2 linked regions of the Homo sapiens genome follow. The protein of the gene in region 1 interacts with the protein of each later gene in a biochemical or structural test. Each region holds a gene or a part of one and is shown on either strand. Other genes may lie near its edges. The genes, in order: CAMTA2 and NKX2-5.

Region 1 (8,986 bases):
AGTCTACTCCTTAGCTAACCAGTGACCTCAGATGAGTCTGATCCTTCCTGAGGTCCTTGGCCTCCTCTCCTGTAAGGTTAGGCATTGACCAAAGGGATTTCTAATGTCTGTCCAGGCTTTCTGGCTTAGAGCCAGAGTCTCCAACTCCAATCCAGGGGGAATGAGAAAGAAGAAATGTGGGTTTCCTCTAACCAGTCTTGGGACTGAAGGACATTGGCTTTTAGAACTGTGCTGTCCAGTATGGTAGCCATTAGCCACATGTGCCTATTAATTAAAGTTAAAGAATACTTAAAATTCACTTCCCCAGTCTCACTGACCATGTTTCAAGTGTTCAGTAGCCACACATGGCTCGTGTTACCCTATTGGATAGTGACGATATAGAACATTCTTGTCACTGCAGAAATGTTCTATTGGACAGCACTGGTCTAGACTTCATTGCCAAGGTTCATCTCTGCCCTTTTGCCACCAGCTTTGCCCTTACCCTACACTCAAAAATCAGCCTTACTAGGGGACCTCAAGGACCACCAAAGTGACAGGTTGGCAGCTTTGCTGTCTACGAGTGTGTTCTCCCCCAGTCTCTACAGCAGCATCCAGCATGTGTGTAAGGAAAGGGGATGAGACCAGAGAATCTGGGGACTGGGAGAAAAAGTCTCAGCACCTGGTCTTAGGATCAGGGCCTGCTGGTTCCATGCTTATGGCCACTGGACACTGTTCATGAGCGGCTAGCTCCCCTTTCCTCCATCTCAGTAACAGGGTCATAACTTCCAGACTCTGATCCGGGGATCAAGAGGATTTTCCAACATCAAATTGTTCATAACTAGTCTCTTGACCCTCAGTTTCCAAACCTTCTTGCTGAATAACAAATATCTTCAACTACAGGGTCTAGAATCCAAGGGATCTCTGGCCCATAGTACGTATTAAGTTCTCAAACAAATGGACTCCCTTCCCAGTTAGTGCCAAGGCCACTGAAGCCAGGGGCCTCTTGGCCCACAGCAGGGCAGTAGGGGAAATAACTATGGAATAATTGTCTGTGGCTGACACAGGTAGCCAGAGAAGGAGCCAGGGAAAGAGAGCCCTTCTCGCTGATCCTACCCTCTCCAGCCCATGAGGTAGGGCTGGTGTCTTTGCAGGTGGCAGGGCGGGAGGGGCCCCTTTCTGCTTCTGTGCTCTTTGAGTATCGAGCCCGCCGATTCCTGTCTCTGCCTAGTACTCAACTTGACTGGCTGTCACTGGACGGTGAGTACCCAGCCCTCTGAACCCAAGTATCCAGCCCACAGCCTTTAAGCATGACATGCTCCTAGACCACTCAGGGTTCAGGTGGCCATCACTGAGCCCCCACTTTACCATTTTTTTTTTTCAATTCCTATTTCATTAGTGATTTCTAAATGTGGCAGCAAACTTCCCTTACCTCCTCTTCCCCATAAATCTTGGGGTCATTTTTATACCAGTTCTTGACCTGCCTTCTCCATCCCAAAGGGTGGAATCTAGACAAGGAAGGCTAAGAGGCAGGGCAGGGACAGGGTCTAGAGCAATATATAGGTGCTATGCACAAGTTTATGTACTTATTTATTATTTATTTTTCTCTTCTTTTTTGAGACGGAGTCTTGCTCTGTCTCCCAGGCTGAACTGCAGTGGCGCGATCTCAGGTCACTGCAACCTCCACCTCCTGGGTTCAAGCAATCCTCCTGCCTCAGCCTCCCAAGTAGCTGGGATTACAGGTGCCTGCCACCAAGCCTGGCTAATTTTTTGTGATTTTAGTAGAGATGAGGTTTCGCCATGTTGGCCAGGCTGGTCTCAAACTCCTGACCTCAAGCAATCCACCCCGCCTTGGTCTACCAAAGTGTTGGGATTACAGGCGTGAGCCACCACACCCGGCTGTACTTATATATTTAAATTTCTATTGTTTTTCCTTTTCTGATATAAAGACGTGTTCATTAACAGAAATTTGGAAATTACACAAAAGCACAAAATAGAAAATAAAAATTTCTGGCTGGGCGCGGTGGCTCGTGCTTCTAATCCCAGCACTTTGGGAGGCCAAGGCGGGTGGATCACCTGAGGTCAGGAGTTTGAGACCAGCCTGGCAAATATGGTGAAACCCTGTCTCCACTAAAAATACAAAAATTAGCCAGGCGTGGTGGTGGGTGCCTGTAGTCCCAGCTACTCAGGAGGCTGAGACAGGAGAATTGCTTGAACCCGAGAGGCGGAAGTTGCAATGAGCCAAGATTGTGCCACTGCACTCCAGCCTGGGCGACAGAGCGAGACTCCGTCTCAAAAAAAAAGAAAAAAATTTCCTATACTACTACTTCTCAGTGATATCCATTGCTAATAACATGGTGTACTAACACAAACATAGAGGCACATACATACGTGTATCTATGTGTGTGTGTATTTATTTATTTAAATCTGGGAGTTTTTGTTCCTGTTACTGGTTCTCTCTCTTGTGGCCTTGAACATTGTTTCTGTCTGCACCTGCTGCTTTCTGCTTTCTCAAGGTTAGCTTTTCTCTATCTCTTCCTCTTGGTGTCTTTGTTGTTGCCTCTTGGCTTCTCTCAGTTCTGCTGCCATCTGTGTTATCTTAGTCTCCCTCTGTCCTTACTTCTCTCTCTCCGGAGCTCTGGTCCTTAGTTTCGCCTCACTCTTGGAGCTGGACCCCACACAAAGCCCGAGTGTGTTGGGTTGCTTGTCTCTGACTTGAGTCTGCCTACCTTGGGATCTGGCCAGGCCTCTCAGTCCTGTTCTGTCTCTGTCCTGCCCTGTGACTGTTCATCACCTTATTTCTCTGTCCCTGTCTAATCTACGTTTTACCGTCTCTCCTATGAGTCTCTTCCATCCCTCTTCTTTCCATTTCTTCTTGAACCAATATCTTAACTTGCCTGTCTTTTATCGTCCTTTCTTACTGCTTGTTTGGCACTTTTCCCCCAGCCCTCCTTTGTCCTTTCTCTCCTCTCCTTCACTTTATCTTTTTTGCTCTCTCTCCTCCCTTTGTTTTCCTTGGGTTTCTGTTCATCATTCTCTGTCCTCCTATCACCTGTGTACCTTCATCCCCTTCTATCCTGGCATCTCAGAACATCTCCAACCTTCACCGTTTGTGTCTGTTTTCCTACAGCTCTGATCCCCTCCTGCCTCCCCTTCTTGTCCTTGTTTGATCTCAGGAGGGGACAGATATAGCTTGGGGGGATATGTGTGTACGTGCGTATTTGTATATGGGGCGGGGAGGAGGAGGAGGAGAAATGGACATGGCTATATGGCTATCCATCTCTGTCACCTTCCGTCCCCCACCATCGTCTTTGTGGACAGCTGCGGGGGGCTGGGAGGAAGGGGAGGTACTTTTCAAATCACAGTCCCTGAGCTTTTTGGGGCAGTGGTTATTAAAAGGGAGGGACCCTGGAATCCTTCACCTTCACCATGGGGGACAAAGGTAGTGTCTGCTGCAAAAATTGACAGAACATTTTGCCTAGGAAAAGGCTGGGGGGAAGAGTGTGTACGGGTGGGATTTGGGACATCTGGAGGCTGGATGACCATTTGGGAATCCTACTACCTCTGTACCTTGAAGGAAACAGTTTTGGTTCCAGATCTGGGTTCTAGATCAGTGGGTAGTATTAACAGCCCTAGTTTAAGGACTGAGTCCTGGTGGGCTTTATTTAGGTGAAGGGGTAAAGGAGCTGTTGTTTTGGGGAAGATAAAAGAATATGGTTCTGTGTCCTCATCCCCAGATCTTGGGACAGGTCTACTTTTGGTGTTCAGGGCATCACCTAGACTGCCCACTCAGCCTCCCATACCCGTTCCCCCTCAGACAACCAGTTCCGGATGTCCATACTAGAGCGACTGGAGCAGATGGAGAAGCGGATGGCAGAGATCGCAGCAGCTGGGCAGGTGCCTTGCCAGGGTCCTGATGCTCCTCCAGTTCAGGTACTTCTGTGAGGAGGGAGGTGGTCTACGGTGGGGAGCAGGGGGAGGACACAGCTAAAGAAAACATCTAGTGCCCATGACTCTCCTCCCTCTCCTGTCCCCAGCCTCCTCAGCCTGTCTTCCCTCTCCCTGACGTCACCCTGTTCCCATCCCCACCTTGTGGCAAGAGTGGCTATTCTGGGCACCCTCTTGGCATGACGGGCTTCAGACTATTTCTGGTCTGAAGAAGGGTGGAGGTGAAGGAGAGGGCGGGGGAGGGGTCAGGAGCACTGGGGCTCAGATCTCTGTGGGTCCCAAGTTTCTGAAAGAAGAGGGCTAAGGCTCAGAGAAGGCTCTGGCTTCTGAGGGGGAGAAGCCATGTGTGAACATGGCACTAATCTGAGCTGATGGGAAGGCACATGGGCAAGATTGTGTGAGGTCTGGCTGCTGGAGGAAGTGGCTGTGGGAGCAAGAGACACAGGCCACAGAGGAACTTCAACTGATGGGATCCTAGAGTGGGACATGTGGGGAGGGGGCAAAATTAGAAGCTGGGAGGACAGATGTGAGGTGGCCAAGGCCACCTCAAGCCAGGGGAGTAGATACCTGGGTCTCTGCCTAAGAGTGTGTATATCGCAGGATGAAGGCCAGGGGCCTGGGTTCGAAGCACGGGTAGTGGTCTTGGTAGAAAGCATGATCCCACGCTCCACCTGGAAGGGTCCTGAACGTCTGGCCCATGGAAGCCCCTTCCGGGGCATGAGCCTTCTGCACCTGGCTGCTGCCCAGGGCTATGCCCGCCTCATCGAGACCCTGAGCCAGTGGCGGTGAGCAAGGGCAGCTGGGTGAGGGCTGGGCAGCCTCTGGGACAGAAGTGTCAGGGGACTGAAGAGGAATTGGAGGACCTGGGGCCCTACCAAGAGGGAGTTGGGGTCATTGTGGGAAGGGAGGGGGTTGGGAGAGGACTTATATTTTGGGGAACTTTCATATCCTGACTTACAACACTTTGACTTCTTGACCTCCTTAAGCTAGTGTCCTTGACTGCCTCTTCCCACCGGCCCTGTACAGCTTGCCTCCTAGTGCCTTTACTTCTGATGTTCCTGCTTTGCCCACTTTTTCCCTCATTGGGCTCTGCTGTCTCTCTCCCAAACCCTCCAGGAGTGTGGAGACTGGAAGCTTGGACTTAGAGCAGGAGGTTGACCCGCTCAACGTGGATCATTTCTCTTGCACCCCTCTGGTGAGGATGACGGATTCCTGAGCGCATATGGGGCAGGGAGCAATGGGAACAGCCCTTGAAAAGGAAGATCCTGAGGAATGCAGGGAGTGGGGTGGGCTGGGGCCTGAAGACCTGACTACCTGGAGGAAGAGCCCCTGGCCTCACCTCCACCTCCGTCTCCGCCTGTCCCGCCCCCTTCCTCAGATGTGGGCTTGTGCCCTGGGACACCTGGAAGCTGCTGTGCTCCTTTTCCGTTGGAACCGACAGGCACTGAGCATTCCCGACTCTCTGGGCCGTCTGCCATTGTCTGTGGCTCATTCCCGGGGTCATGTGCGCCTTGCCCGCTGCCTTGAGGAACTACAGAGACAGGAGCCTTCGGTGGAGCCCCCATTTGCCCTATCGCCACCCTCCTCCAGCCCAGACACTGGTGAGGGTGGCCCTAATCTTTTGGAGAGAGGGATGTAGGTAGGAGGATAGGCCAGGACAAAGCCAAAGGGTGTGGGAAACGAGTAAGAGAGGAGACAAACCACAGAGGCAGGGATGGGAGATAACAGAAGCAAGAACAGACGGGGACCGAGAACAGGATGGGGAAGGCAGGAGACTTGAGCGAGGGATGGCCGTGGCTCCGGCTGCCCTCACTCTCTTCCCTCCCCACACAGGTCTGAGCAGCGTCTCCTCGCCCTCGGAGCTGTCGGATGGCACCTTTTCCGTCACGTCAGCCTATTCTAGTGCCCCAGATGGCAGTCCCCCCCCTGCACCTCTGCCAGCCTCTGAGATGACTATGGAGGACATGGCCCCAGGCCAGCTTTCCTCTGGTGTCCCAGAAGCCCCCCTACTCCTCATGGACTATGAGGCTACCAACTCCAAGGGGCCCCTCTCCTCCCTTCCTGCCCTCCCACCAGCTTCAGATGATGGGGCTGCTCCAGAGGACGCTGACAGCCCACAGGCTGTGGATGTGATCCCGGTACTGCTTATATTGATGGAGTTATGGGGGCTAGAAGTGGAGTAGGAAGGGTGAGGCCGACTTCCATGAAGCAGAATCAAAGTCTGGCTTCAGTTTAGGAAGGGCCTATTTACTTCATTTTGGGACAGGCAAGGTAGCCTTTTGCTTAGCTCCTTTTAGACCATGTGACTTGGAAGTCATGAGGCAGCGGAGGTTGAAAATTCTGGCTGGTCCCACAATACAGATGTTGGAAAAAAAAAATTTGGCCGGGCTTGGTGGCTTACGCCTGTAATCCCAGCACTTTGGGTGGCCAGGGCGGGTGGATCACTTCAGGCCAGGAGTTTGAGACCAGCCTGGGCAACATGGCGAAACCCCCTCTCTACAAGAAATACAAAAATTAACTGGGCACTGTGGTATGTGCCTGTAATCCCAGCTGTTTGAGAGGCTGAGACACAAGAATCACTTGAACCCAGGAGGCACAGGCTGCAGTGAGCCGAGACTGCACCACTGCACTCCAGCCTGGGTGACAGACTGAGACTGTCTCAAAAAAAAAAAAAAAAAGACAAAATAGTAAGATTTAAAATATAAAAAGCATTAAAAAATATTCTGGCTGGGTGCGGTGGCTCACCCCTGTAATCCCATCACTTTCAGAGAACGAGGTGGGAGGATCACTTGAGAACAGGGGCTTGAGACCAGTCTGGCCAACATAACAAGACCCCATCTCTACACAAAATAATTTTTTAAAAATAGGCATGGTGGCACACACCTGTAGTTGTAGCTACTTGGGAGGCTGAGGTAGGAGAACCCCTTGAGCCCAGGAATATGAGGTTGCAGTGAGCTGACTGTGCCATTGCATTCCAGCCTGGACAAGAGACCCTGTCTCTATAACAAAAATTCTAGGGAATATCTTCAGTTAGAGCTGGTTTGTAGGAGTTAACCGTTGATCTATGTAGGGACAAGGTTCTAGGAGAACCAAGATGACGGAGGGCAGCTGGGAGTTGTGTGGAGAGGTAAGGCTGGCAAGATGAGGGTATTTGGCAGTGATCTGATGCAGGAAGGAGGCTTGCACATGATAAAGCTAAGAAAGTCTTGTGGAATGAAAGTGAATCTTCAAGTATAGCCTTGTACTTCTCTGATAGAGACTGGGGACATACCTGCTTTAGAGAGACTAATGGAGTAAGTGGGTGGCACTTTAAGTACAAAAAACTTAGGGAACTCCACAAGTAGGTTGTGTTGAGTGTGTCCAGCAGGAAGTGCTGGAGTATAGGCTTCAGGGCTGGAGCAAAGGCCAGACTGGAGCCATTCATCCGGGTAGTAGTTGGCAAGTGTTGGAATGGTTCTTGGAGAGTTGAAAGGGAGCTGGGGGTGGGCACAGCCAAGCCTATGGGGAGCATGTGCTGGTCAGCTGGCATGGGGCAGGCCCAGGTAGGACAGTGGATGGTTGGCCTGAAAGGGTGTCAAGTCCTCCATTTGTTCAGCTTTGAATCCCCACTTGGAGTATCTCCTTTTTATCCTATATTCTCCATAGCATCTCAGCACAGAGGGACCCCCAAGTGGGAGCCCCATCAGTATAAATGAATGAGTCTGGAACAGTGGCCCAGAAAGACAGGGTTAGCAGCACCTGGCAGGGAGAGAAGGAACAAGATAGGAATGGACTGAGGTTACAGCTGGCAGCTGGGGCCCCTAAGGACTCACTCAGCTTCTCCCTTCTTCCAGGTGGACATGATCTCACTAGCCAAGCAGATCATCGAAGCCACACCGGAGCGGATTAAACGAGAGGACTTCGTGGGGCTGCCCGAGGCTGGAGCCTCAATGCGGGAGCGGACAGGGGCTGTGGGGCTCAGTGAGACCATGTCCTGGCTGGCCAGCTACCTGGAGAATGTGGACCATTTCCCCAGCTCAACCCCTCCCAGGTGACTAGCTCAGGACAAAGCCTCCAGATTCTTCAAAGGAAGATGGGAGGAAGGGAGAAAGCTGGCTTTCCCACAGCCAAAGCTCCATTCTGGCTGAGGCCCCAGGGCCTTGGAGAAGCGAACTGAACTGGCTGATGAACTCTGAAGTCACTCTCCAGACTCAGTTGCTGGTGGTTTTCCTTCGTAGCCATCCATAGGTGGCAGAGGAGGGACTTCAGATGCTTCATGACACCCTCTTTCCCTACCGCCTACAGCGAACTGCCCTTTGAGCGAGGTCGCCTGGCTGTCCCTTCAGCACCCTCCTGGGCAGAGTTTCTCTCTGCATCCACCAGTGGCAAGATGGAAAGTGATTTTGCCCTGCTGACACTATCAGATCACGAGCAGCGGGAACTGTATGAGGCTGCCCGAGTCATCCAGACGGCCTTCCGAAAGTACAAGGTCAGGGGCAGGGGTCTCAGGATGAATTACACAATCTCCAGTCAGGGGAGACTGGGCTCCCAGGGCTTTTGGAGGATGAGTAGTCGTGCAGACAGGCCTTGGATGGGGTAAAGGGTCAGGGGAACCCCAGGAAAGTTGAAGGGACAAGTCAGATATGCCATTATGTGGGTCATGAGGTGGTGAGACTTCTCTCCCTTCAGGGCCGGCGGCTGAAGGAGCAGCAGGAGGTAGCAGCAGCTGTAATCCAGCGCTGTTACCGGAAGTACAAGCAGGTGAGACCCTTCTCCCTCAAAAGTGTAACCAGCAACCCACCAACCCACACCCACGCCTAACCATTCCAGAATGTTGCCAGAGCCCTAACTCCCCTTCTCTCTCCACAAGCTGACCTGGATTGCACTTAAGGTATTAGGCATGAGCTCTGAGTGTGAGGTCTGTGATGATTCAGTCTTTCCTTGAGTGTGTGGGTTACAGAGAGTCTTGCATCAGCCTAACTTGGGTGAGCCTCAGGGCTTTGGGTCTCCGTCCCTCTATTTCAGCCCCTGTCCCTCCTCCCCACCCCTGCAGTTTGCACTCTATAAGAAGATGACCCAGGCG
Region 2 (9,625 bases), on another chromosome or scaffold:
TTTGCTATTTAAAGTATCTCAAAACATATCCATAAGAATACATATGAATGGAACTAATTCTTTCTCATGGCATATGGTATTCTGTTCTATTGGTACAACATAATTTTTTAACCAGTCCTCAGGTATATATACACTGGTTTTTTTAACATGTTTTGATTCTTAAAAAAATTAAAAACGGTGATGAAAATACTTTTCTTTGCATATATGTATATACCTATAGAATGGAATCCTAGAAATGAAAATATTTGTTCAAAGAGCTTATTCATTTTTAATTTTGGCAGTACCACATTGCTCCAAAGAGGTTTACCAGTTTACAATGTAGAAGCATGACGAGGCAACTATTACACTTTTTGATCTTCGTCAGTCTGATAAGTAAAAACATTTGCCTCTCTGTGTTTCAATTTGCATTTCTTTATTTCTTTTTATTTTTTCCAGCAAGGCTCTGATACTCTTGGTCATTTTTCAAATATTTTTGCTGGATCATTTTCTTATTGATTTACAGGTATTCTTTCCAAATTGTGGAAATCAGTACTTTGTCATGTATTTCTAGCATTTTTCCTGAGTACAGTTTTCTGTTGGATTCTATTAATGGTATTTTTGCTGTGCACAGATTTATTTTTATGCAATCAGGTTTATATAATTCATCTTTTATAGTTTCTAGGTCTTTTGTTCTCTTAATCCCCCTCTCAAATATAAAAGCACTCCAAAATTATTATTTTAATTATCTGTAGCACTTTTGTGTTTCATTTTTAACGTCCAAATGTTTGATCTATCTGAAATTGAATGTATTTGGTATAAGAAAAATCCATCACATTTTCCTTACGTTAACATCATTTTATTTTGAAAGCATATTGTCATATAGACCATCCCTCCCCCCACCCCAAATAGCATAATATTGCAATTGGCGGGGACTTCTCATCTTAACCAGTTTTACTTTGTTGGTTAGACAACTACCCACGTGCCTGTCTACCTCTGCCCACTGTCCAGGTGAGTTCAGGTAACAACCTGGGATGTCTCCCAGGATAGTGTCGCTGGAAAGGAACGCTGTGTACACCTCATACCACCAAGGAGACAGACACAAAACTGGGGACCAGACAGGAAAAGAGACATGCTCAAGATGAGCCAACTGCTGAAAAGGCAGGACCACACCCACCGCGGGCTCAGAGGCCAGCGCTCTTTCTGACACACGCCTGCCTTTTTCAGGGTCTGTGCATCTTGGGCTGTGCAACCCCAGCACCTGGTACATAGTGGGCACCCACTCAATGTAGGTGAAGGGATGGAGAAAATCAGGCCAAGAATCCAACAGTGACCAAGCTGTGGAGTCACTTGGCAGCTGGGTGAAAGCTACGGTCCACTCTTTTAGCCTCTCCCCTCACAGCCACACACACACACACACACACACACATACGCACAGTATCCACTAGCCATGTGGATCTGCTCTTTCCTTCTGTGGGCTCTAGGCCCTTCCTATGGCTGAGCAAGTTTCCATGGACAGCTCTTAAAGCAGCTTGGAGACTTTCTGTCTGTCCTAGCTGGCTAGCAGGGGGCTGGGGAGGGGTGGGGGGTGAGGGAAGGAAGCCAAAACCCAGCTAGGCAATAGAGAGTTAGTATTTCCAGTGCTCTGCTCAGACAGCCCAGAAAGCAGGATTGACTACATAGTTTGTGGGCTCAGCGCAAAATAGAAATGTGGAGACTCTGCTTAAAAACTTATGAAGAGTTTTAAGACAGCAACAGCGGAACATTAAACCAAGCTCAGGCCCTGTGAGACTGCACAGATGCCATGCCCATGAAGGATAGGGTTAATTATGGAGGAGGGGGAAGGGCCCTTTCAAGGACTCTAAAGCTTCAGACTGTAAGGTAGAAGTGGGCTGGAGGGGTATTCATAATAGACAAAATGTGGAAATAACCCAAATGTTTACCAAGTGATGAATGGACGAAGTGTGGCATAGACATACAATGGAATATTGTTCAGCCATTAAAAGGAACAAGATGCTGATACGTGCTACAGCATGGACGAACTTTGAAAACATTATGTTAAGTGAACGCTGCGAGACACAAACAGCCACATATTGTATGATTCCATTTGTATGAAATGTCCAGAACAGGCAAATCTATAGGGGCAGAAAATAGATTAGCAGTTGCCTAGGGCTGGGAAGGTAGGAGAGGGGATTGGAGTTGATGGCTAAAGACCACAAGTTTGTTTTTGGGGTGATAAAAATGTTCTAAAATTGTGGTGTTGGTTTCACAACTCTGTGGACATACTAAAAATCACTGAACTGTATACTTTAAATGGGTGGATTGTATGGTATGCGAATTATATCTCGATAAAGCTGTTATCAAAATAGGAGAGGGAAGGGAGAAGGGAAAGGAAAAGTGGGAGAGCGAGGGGAGGGGAAGGCGGAAGTGAAATGAACGCATGTTAAATTCCTCTCTCCCCCTCTCTTTCTCAAATGAACTTTATGCAGGAAATCTCCCTTGTCTATGAAGGTTGGGGAGACCTGGCATCTCAAATCCAACAGCCTGGTCCTCTCCCCTGGCTGCGGGGTGGGGGGTGATGGTGGGGGTCTTGCTCTTCCTCCAGTTGGTACGGTCTTGGGCGCAGCGACGTGTAATAAAAGAAAACAGTCTCAGCTGTGCAGTCAGCTGTGTGTTCGAATCCTAACACCCTGACACTGTCCTTTCCCATCTGTGTGACCCTGAGCAACTTACTCCACGTCTCTGAACCTCATTCTCCTCAGGCCTGCAGTCGGAATAAGAGGATCCGTGACGAGATCCGTGAGAGCGCCTGGCACACCCCGTGGGCACTGAACAAGCGTGGAAATGAGAAGGATTTGGTGCCAGCTGAGCCACCTGAATGAGGCGAGTCCCGAGGCAGGAAAAATCCGGTGCCGCGGAGGCCGCCTGGACTCTTCCGGAGCCAAGGGCGAGGTCGGCGGCCCTCAGAGTCGCCCCCCGCCCCCAACTCCCGGCCAGGAAGGAAGCCGGGCGGCGGAGGGGCCCAGCGCGGAGGCGGAGGCGGAGGCGGAGGCGGAGGCCGAGGCCGGGAGTCCGGCGCGCAGCCGGAGCTGCTCATCCATCAGCCGGACGAAGAGCAGAGTCGCGCTCTCGGCCCTCTGTTTGCTTTCTCGCCAATTATTGCAGCGCCGCAGCCCCTTTGTTGATACAGTAGTCCGAAAAAGTGCTAATGTTCATTTATCAGGGGGCCAGCCGGGGACTCCCACGAGTTGCGATTCTTCCCAAAATATAAACATGGGGCGAGCGTCCCAGACAGAAACTCCCATCTGTTTCCCCCGCGCGGGCCGAGAGCGAGGCGTTGTTGAAGATAAAGCCGCGGATAACGCCGCCTGTCTCCAATGGACGTCTCCCCAGCGCATTAATGACATTCCCGGTGATAGTTCCAGCTTATCTTTCAATTAATCATATATACCTTTTGCGACCAGCCCTGCTGATTGCACGAAAGGGGGGCCGGCTCCGGCTGCGCCGATCGCTTTTCAATTAATAATAATTTATTCACGGAGAATGCGCTCGAGCCACCCTGGAATTTGGATTATCTTAAAGCACCAACTCTTTAAAAGTCAAGGAAATACACAGATAGATTTTCGATCTCTTCTCTCTCCTTTTGTCTCTCTCTGCCTTTCTCTAGGCTGAAGGCTGTTTGTTTGTCCTGCTAGTTTGGTCAAAGTGCGGCGCAGAGAGGCGGCCAGGTTGGGTCAGCGGCCCTTGGGAAAAAAAGATGTGTCCCTGTTGGGGGCCAGAGAATCAAGTTTCCTCCCACCCAACCCCCAACTATTGCAATTTCTATTTAGATCTATTTAGAGGGATTTTTTTTTAACTCACTCGGAAACAGTGAGGACTGGAAAGAAAAGCTGCAAATGGCTCTCGGACTTTCCTCTAAGGAGACCAGCATGGGTCGCCCCAATTTCTATTTTGCACGTATTTGTCCGTTTTTGCCCCATCTCCTCTCTCCTGCAACACCAAGACCTTTTTGGAAGCCAAGAGAAATCATTACCCGATTCACAAAGAGCATAGAGAGTGTAACAGTCACTGATCTTGTTCAAATAGGGAGAGTTTTTTTTCCTTCCCTTTTTGTAACACCTGACCCACAGGACTGACAGTTCTAGGAAGCCCCCTTACCCGAAAATAGGAAATAAATCCTTGCCACCTTGATTTGCAAGGGCAATGCTAATTTTTTTCTTTCTCCAGAGCTCTCAAAAAAAAAAAAAAAAAAACCTTACTAAAAACAGGGATCCCGGATGTAGCCTCGATGTCCCCCATTAAACGGTAATATTTCAGGCGTCCGCTCACACTAATCTTTCAAACTGTCATCGCGAGCCGCCTGGCCAGCAGATTCACTTAACAGCGCTCCCAGGACCCTCGTTCCGAGCTCTTTTCAGCGAGACATTTAATTGAATCGGATGTGGCTCGTTTGCCAGACGTCACCGCCTCGGCGATAGGCATCCTCTCCAACGACACCCCCCCCCGCCCGCGCTCGAAAACAATCTTCAAAGGCAAGGCGGGCCCCCAAGCTAGGTTAATTTACAGCCATAACGGTAACGTGGCCAAAAGTCCAGGCGAGGAAGGGCCGCAAGGCCGCTGACATGCAGCTCCGTCCAAGGAGAATTTGGGTTGGGAGGTGAAGAGGTGGGGGGACGAGGTTTCCTGGGCCTTGAACGCCCCACATTTAAGAAAAGGCATCCTCCACAGACTAGACTAACAATTCCAGACCCCCAGTAGTCCCTGGCTCAGAAACTCGAGGCGTGATTTCGGCGTGGCAGCCCAGGCCTGTTACTGACGGCTGGCGCCTAGAAGCCGGGGTCAGGGCGTTGCGCGCCTCCTGGGCTGCCCTGCGGGGCTCACCTCTCTCCCCAGCATGGAGGCCCCAGGTCCTGGGAGTGTGGCTTTGATGAGGGACAGGAAAAGTCCCAACATCAGGCCAATGCTTGACTTCACTTGCGTCGGCGTCTCAGACGGCACACTGTCGGGTTTGAGCACCCAAGATGTACGTTCTGGACAGACACTATTTTGTCCCCATACATGGAGCGTTTCCTCCGCACCTTGGGCGCGCCTGCGGGAGCTGTGTCTTTAGGTAGTTTTTGGCCCTGCGCCGCCTTTATTCTACTCCAAGCGCCTCTTGCCAACCCGCACTCCGCAAAGAGCCAAGCCCTCCACATCCCCATTCTCAGCAAGTCCACGCGTCCCGCCCAGCTTCCCGCCCGCGGTTCCCTGTACCAGCTAGGGCCGTGAGAAGCCAACGCTTTTCCACTGACAAATCCTGTCATCCCCAGCTCTAGAAGGCGTCCTTAACCTGGGCCCGCTCTGCCTGCCCGGACTCCTGAATTGTAAGCAAAATAAAACTCCTCTCTGCAGTGTTCTGGGGAATGGAGAAGACCCCAAGCTTTCATCAGACCTCCCAAGGAGTGCGGGGACCCAGAGAAATGAGGCCACCCGGGCAGGATCTGGCCATGTAGCTGGCGCTCCTGAAACTCTGGCAGATTTGTCTGACTTCTGTGCCCTACTCTACTGACCCTGGGCTAAAAATGATCATGATCACCCCACTTGCCCTGCCCTTCCCCCACGCGCCTGACCGAGCCGCAGGGGTGCCCCACTGGAAGTCCGGCCCAGAGGCCTCAGAGAAATCCTGGCCTAGCTGGGCTCAGAGGAGCCCCGCCTCCCTGAGAGCTAAACCTGGGCTAGGACCCTGAAACCTCGAGGTTGGCAGAAGCCTGAGGGCCTTGCTGCCAGGCAGGGAGGGCACGGGAAGGAGGGAGGTGGGATCGATGGCCTCCAAACAGGGGAAACAAGGTGGCTGGTAGCTGGGGCACTCCACAAGACAGGTGTCTCCTGGGAAGCTGAGCTTACCAGCTGGGATTCCTGATTTATTTCATTATTAAGGGGAGAGGCATTTCCCTGGGAGGGTACTGGCAGTGACTGATGCCCCCTGGAGTTGTGCTGTGCATAACACTACTGTAGGAGGCAGCAACTCCTACCCCACCTGGCCATCACTCACCTTGCCCTTACTTTCGTTGACTCGCCCAGAAGCACCCAGAGCCTGCGGCATGACTGACCCTGTAGGCCAAGCCAAACCAAACCCCCGAATTGTCCAGAATCTCGCCCTGCTGCTATCCCCAAAGCCAGCCCTGTCCTCCAGGCTTCTCTTCCTATTCAGACTCTCCCTCATCCCACCACCTTCAGTAATAAAGCCTTCCTCAAATCACTCTCCTCCCCACCGCTTCCCACCCCATCCTTCTCTCTCCCATGCTGGTTTGGGTGCTGAGGAATATTTCTTCAAACCCACACCCATCCAGCCCTGCCCAGAGGCCTGACTCTGCATGCCTCTGGTAGGCTTTTCAGGCTCACATTAGGGAGCAAACGCAGGCTGCAGGAGCAAAAGGAGACCCTTCCAAATGCGTCGTGGCCCCTTTAAAAAAGCTGGGCAGGGCTTTTTTTTTTTTTTTTTTTTTTTTTTTTTTTTTTTTTTTTTGCCGTATGACTATATTAGGTGACACGAAACTGCTCATCGCTCCTGTCATCGAGGCCCCTGGCCCAATGGCAGGCTGAGTCCCCCTCCTCTGGCCTGGTCCCGCCTCTCCTGCCCCTTGTGCTCAGCGCTACCTGCTGCCCGGACACATCCAGAGCTGGCCGACGGGTGCGCGGGCGGGCGGCGGCACCATGCAGGGAAGCTGCCAGGGGCCGTGGGCAGCGCCGCTTTCTGCCGCCCACCTGGCGCTGTGAGACTGGCGCTGCCACCATGTTCCCCAGCCCTGCTCTCACGCCCACGCCCTTCTCAGTCAAAGACATCCTAAACCTGGAACAGCAGCAGCGCAGCCTGGCTGCCGCCGGAGAGCTCTCTGCCCGCCTGGAGGCGACCCTGGCGCCCTCCTCCTGCATGCTGGCCGCCTTCAAGCCAGAGGCCTACGCTGGGCCCGAGGCGGCTGCGCCGGGCCTCCCAGAGCTGCGCGCAGAGCTGGGCCGCGCGCCTTCACCGGCCAAGTGTGCGTCTGCCTTTCCCGCCGCCCCCGCCTTCTATCCACGTGCCTACAGCGACCCCGACCCAGCCAAGGACCCTAGAGCCGAAAAGAAAGGTGAGGAGGAAACACAGGCCCCCTTCTCCCCTCCTGGGTCGCTTTCGTCCCCAAGAAACTCAGGGCCAGGAGGAGGAGACACGCGCCCTTGGGCCGAGGGCTGGGCTGCGGCGGGGGGTTCAGAATGTAAGATGCCTGGTGTTGTCGCCAGGCTCCCGCGCCCCGCGTCCAATCGGAGGTTCAGAGGAAATGCCGGATTGAAAGGATCAGAAGCAAGAGACCAAAAAACGTTTCCCCCCGGCCTAACAAAGCCCCGGGCGGCTTCGGCTCTGCTCCTGGGTCTGGTAGGAAGTTGAGAAATCGGTTTATGGTAGACAGAACAGAGAGACAAGCAGATAATCTCTGTTTTTAAATCTCCTTTGGATTTACGAATCTTTTTAAAGATCTGATGAGAACCGCTAAACAGAAATTGAAATGTTGCTCACCAGACAGCTTTTGCGTACAATCGGAGGAGGGTCCTGGACCTTCTTTCTGCAGCCCACCCACGACCCGGGTTTCTGGTGCCTTTCTTTCTTTGCGCCAGGAAAGTGGAGTCTGGGATCGAGGGCCTTGATTTTAAAATGGGATACTGCGGACCCTCAGGAATCTGACTTCACTTTATTTTTTCAGCACAACTTGCCGGCGCGGCCAGGGCGGAGAGGTTCCCTCGTGGAAAAGTTAGGAAATGCTGCGCTACCGCGGGCACAAGGGAGTGGACGAGATGAGTGCGGGATCATCCCGCAGGCCATCCCAGGATCGGGGAGGGAGGCCGGCCCCGCTGCAGAAAGGGGCCTTCTGGGAGACCCCCCAGCCCAAGGCAGGAGCCCGGGCGATTCCCGGGAGGCCGCAGGCGCTGGGCGAAGCGCTGGGCGAAGGGCCGCTGCCAGCCGGGAGAGAATTCATAGGTTTGTTGAGGAGCAGAGGCCTGGGAACAAATTCGGGCGGGCACGGCGGCTAGAACTGATCGCTACCAATTCGAGGAAGCCAGCAAGGCAGGTTCCGAGGCCGCCTGCCCACCCGCAGCTTCTTGGACACTGCGCAAACCCTGCTGCGGCCAGGCTGGAGCCTCCGATCACCAAACCAACACTCCCTGGCCTTCTGTTTCTTGATTCCTTAATTTTGAGATAAGACCGTCCCTAGCAGTGAGGCCTCGGCCTCTGTTCATTTAACTTCTCAAACCAAACTAGCCCTAATTCAGTTCACCCCAGAGCATCACCTGGTTTTATTTTTATTTTTTTATTTTTTTATTTATTTTTTTTTTTTTTGCAGCCTGAAATTTTAAGTCACCGTCTGTCTCCCTCACCAGGGTGTGAACTGCCCCGAGGGCAGAGACCTCCCGTTTTGTTCTCCAGCGCCTTGAGCCAGCCTGACTTTCTACAAATGCTGAGTGAGACGTGTCGGTGGCTCCCAGTGCACTTGGCAGAGTGAGCCGCAGCCAGCTGGGCGCTCCAGGCAGGACACAGTGGCCTCCACGAGGATCCCTTACCATTACTGTGCGGCCGCGCTCCGTAGGTCAAGCCGCTCTTACCAAGCGTCTCTCTGCCTCTCTGTTCCCCCTCAGAGCTGTGCGCGCTGCAGAAGGCGGTGGAGCTGGAGAAGACAGAGGCGGACAACGCGGAGCGGCCCCGGGCGCGACGGCGGAGGAAGCCGCGCGTGCTCTTCTCGCAGGCGCAGGTCTATGAGCTGGAGCGGCGCTTCAAGCAGCAGCGGTACCTGTCGGCCCCCGAACGCGACCAGCTGGCCAGCGTGCTGAAACTCACGTCCACGCAGGTCAAGATCTGGTTCCAGAACCGGCGCTACAAGTGCAAGCGGCAGCGGCAGGACCAGACTCTGGAGCTGGTGGGGCTGCCCCCGCCGCCGCCGCCGCCTGCCCGCAGGATCGCGGTGCCAGTGCTGGTGCGCGATGGCAAGCCATGCCTAGGGGACTCGGCGCCCTACGCGCCTGCCTACGGCGTGGGCCTCAATCCCTACGGTTATAACGCCTACCCCGCCTATCCGGGTTACGGCGGCGCGGCCTGCAGCCCTGGCTACAGCTGCACTGCCGCTTACCCCGCCGGGCCTTCCCCAGCGCAGCCGGCCACTGCCGCCGCCAACAACAACTTCGTGAACTTCGGCGTCGGGGACTTGAATGCGGTTCAGAGCCCCGGGATTCCGCAGAGCAACTCGGGAGTGTCCACGCTGCATGGTATCCGAGCCTGGTAGGGAAGGGACCCGCGTGGCGCGACCCTGACCGATCCCACCTCAACAGCTCCCTGACTCTCGGGGGGAGAAGGGGCTCCCAACATGACCCTGAGTCCCCTGGATTTTGCATTCACTCCTGCGGAGACCTAGGAACTTTTTCTGTCCCACGCGCGTTTGTTCTTGCGCACGGGAGAGTTTGTGGCGGCGATTATGCAGCGTGCAATGAGTGATCCTGCAGCCTGGTGTCTTAGCTGTCCCCCCAGGAGTGCCCTCCGAGAGTCCATGGGCACCCCCGGTTGGAACTGGGACTGAGCTCGGGCACGCAGGGCCTGAGATCTGGCCGCCCATTCCGCGAGCCAGGGCCGGGCGCCCGGGCCTTTGCT

The links.
Region 2: the proteins of CAMTA2 (region 1) and NKX2-5 form a complex in vitro, tested with the Homo sapiens proteins (one study listed by BioGRID).

The regions. Positions count from the first base shown.
Region 1 is NC_000017.11:4,969,308-4,978,293, reverse strand, and holds part of CAMTA2 (calmodulin-binding transcription activator 2), read left to right. Parts: intron 1-1,101; coding exon 1,102-1,236; intron 1,237-3,612; exon of another isoform or gene 3,613-3,793; coding exon 3,794-3,909; exon of another isoform or gene 3,910-3,934; intron 3,935-4,491; exon of another isoform or gene 4,492-4,524; coding exon 4,525-4,709; intron 4,710-5,040; coding exon 5,041-5,119; intron 5,120-5,302; coding exon 5,303-5,525; intron 5,526-5,757; coding exon 5,758-6,062; intron 6,063-7,757; coding exon 7,758-7,954; intron 7,955-8,143; exon of another isoform or gene 8,144-8,208; coding exon 8,209-8,392; intron 8,393-8,522; exon of another isoform or gene 8,523-8,592; coding exon 8,593-8,664; intron 8,665-8,773; coding exon 8,774-8,794; intron 8,795-8,956; coding exon 8,957-8,986. UniProt on the Homo sapiens protein: Transcription activator. May act as tumor suppressor.
Region 2 is NC_000005.10:173,232,207-173,241,831, reverse strand, and holds the start of NKX2-5 (homeobox protein Nkx-2.5), read left to right. Parts: upstream 1-6,625; 5' UTR 6,626-6,748; coding exon 6,749-7,082; intron 7,083-7,691; coding exon of another isoform or gene 7,692-7,786; exon of another isoform or gene 7,787-8,323; intron 8,324-8,330; coding exon of another isoform or gene 8,331-8,335; exon of another isoform or gene 8,336-8,367; coding exon of another isoform or gene 8,368-8,489; exon of another isoform or gene 8,490-8,622; coding exon 8,623-9,263; 3' UTR 9,264-9,625. UniProt on the Homo sapiens protein: Transcription factor required for the development of the heart and the spleen. During heart development, acts as a transcriptional activator of NPPA/ANF in cooperation with GATA4.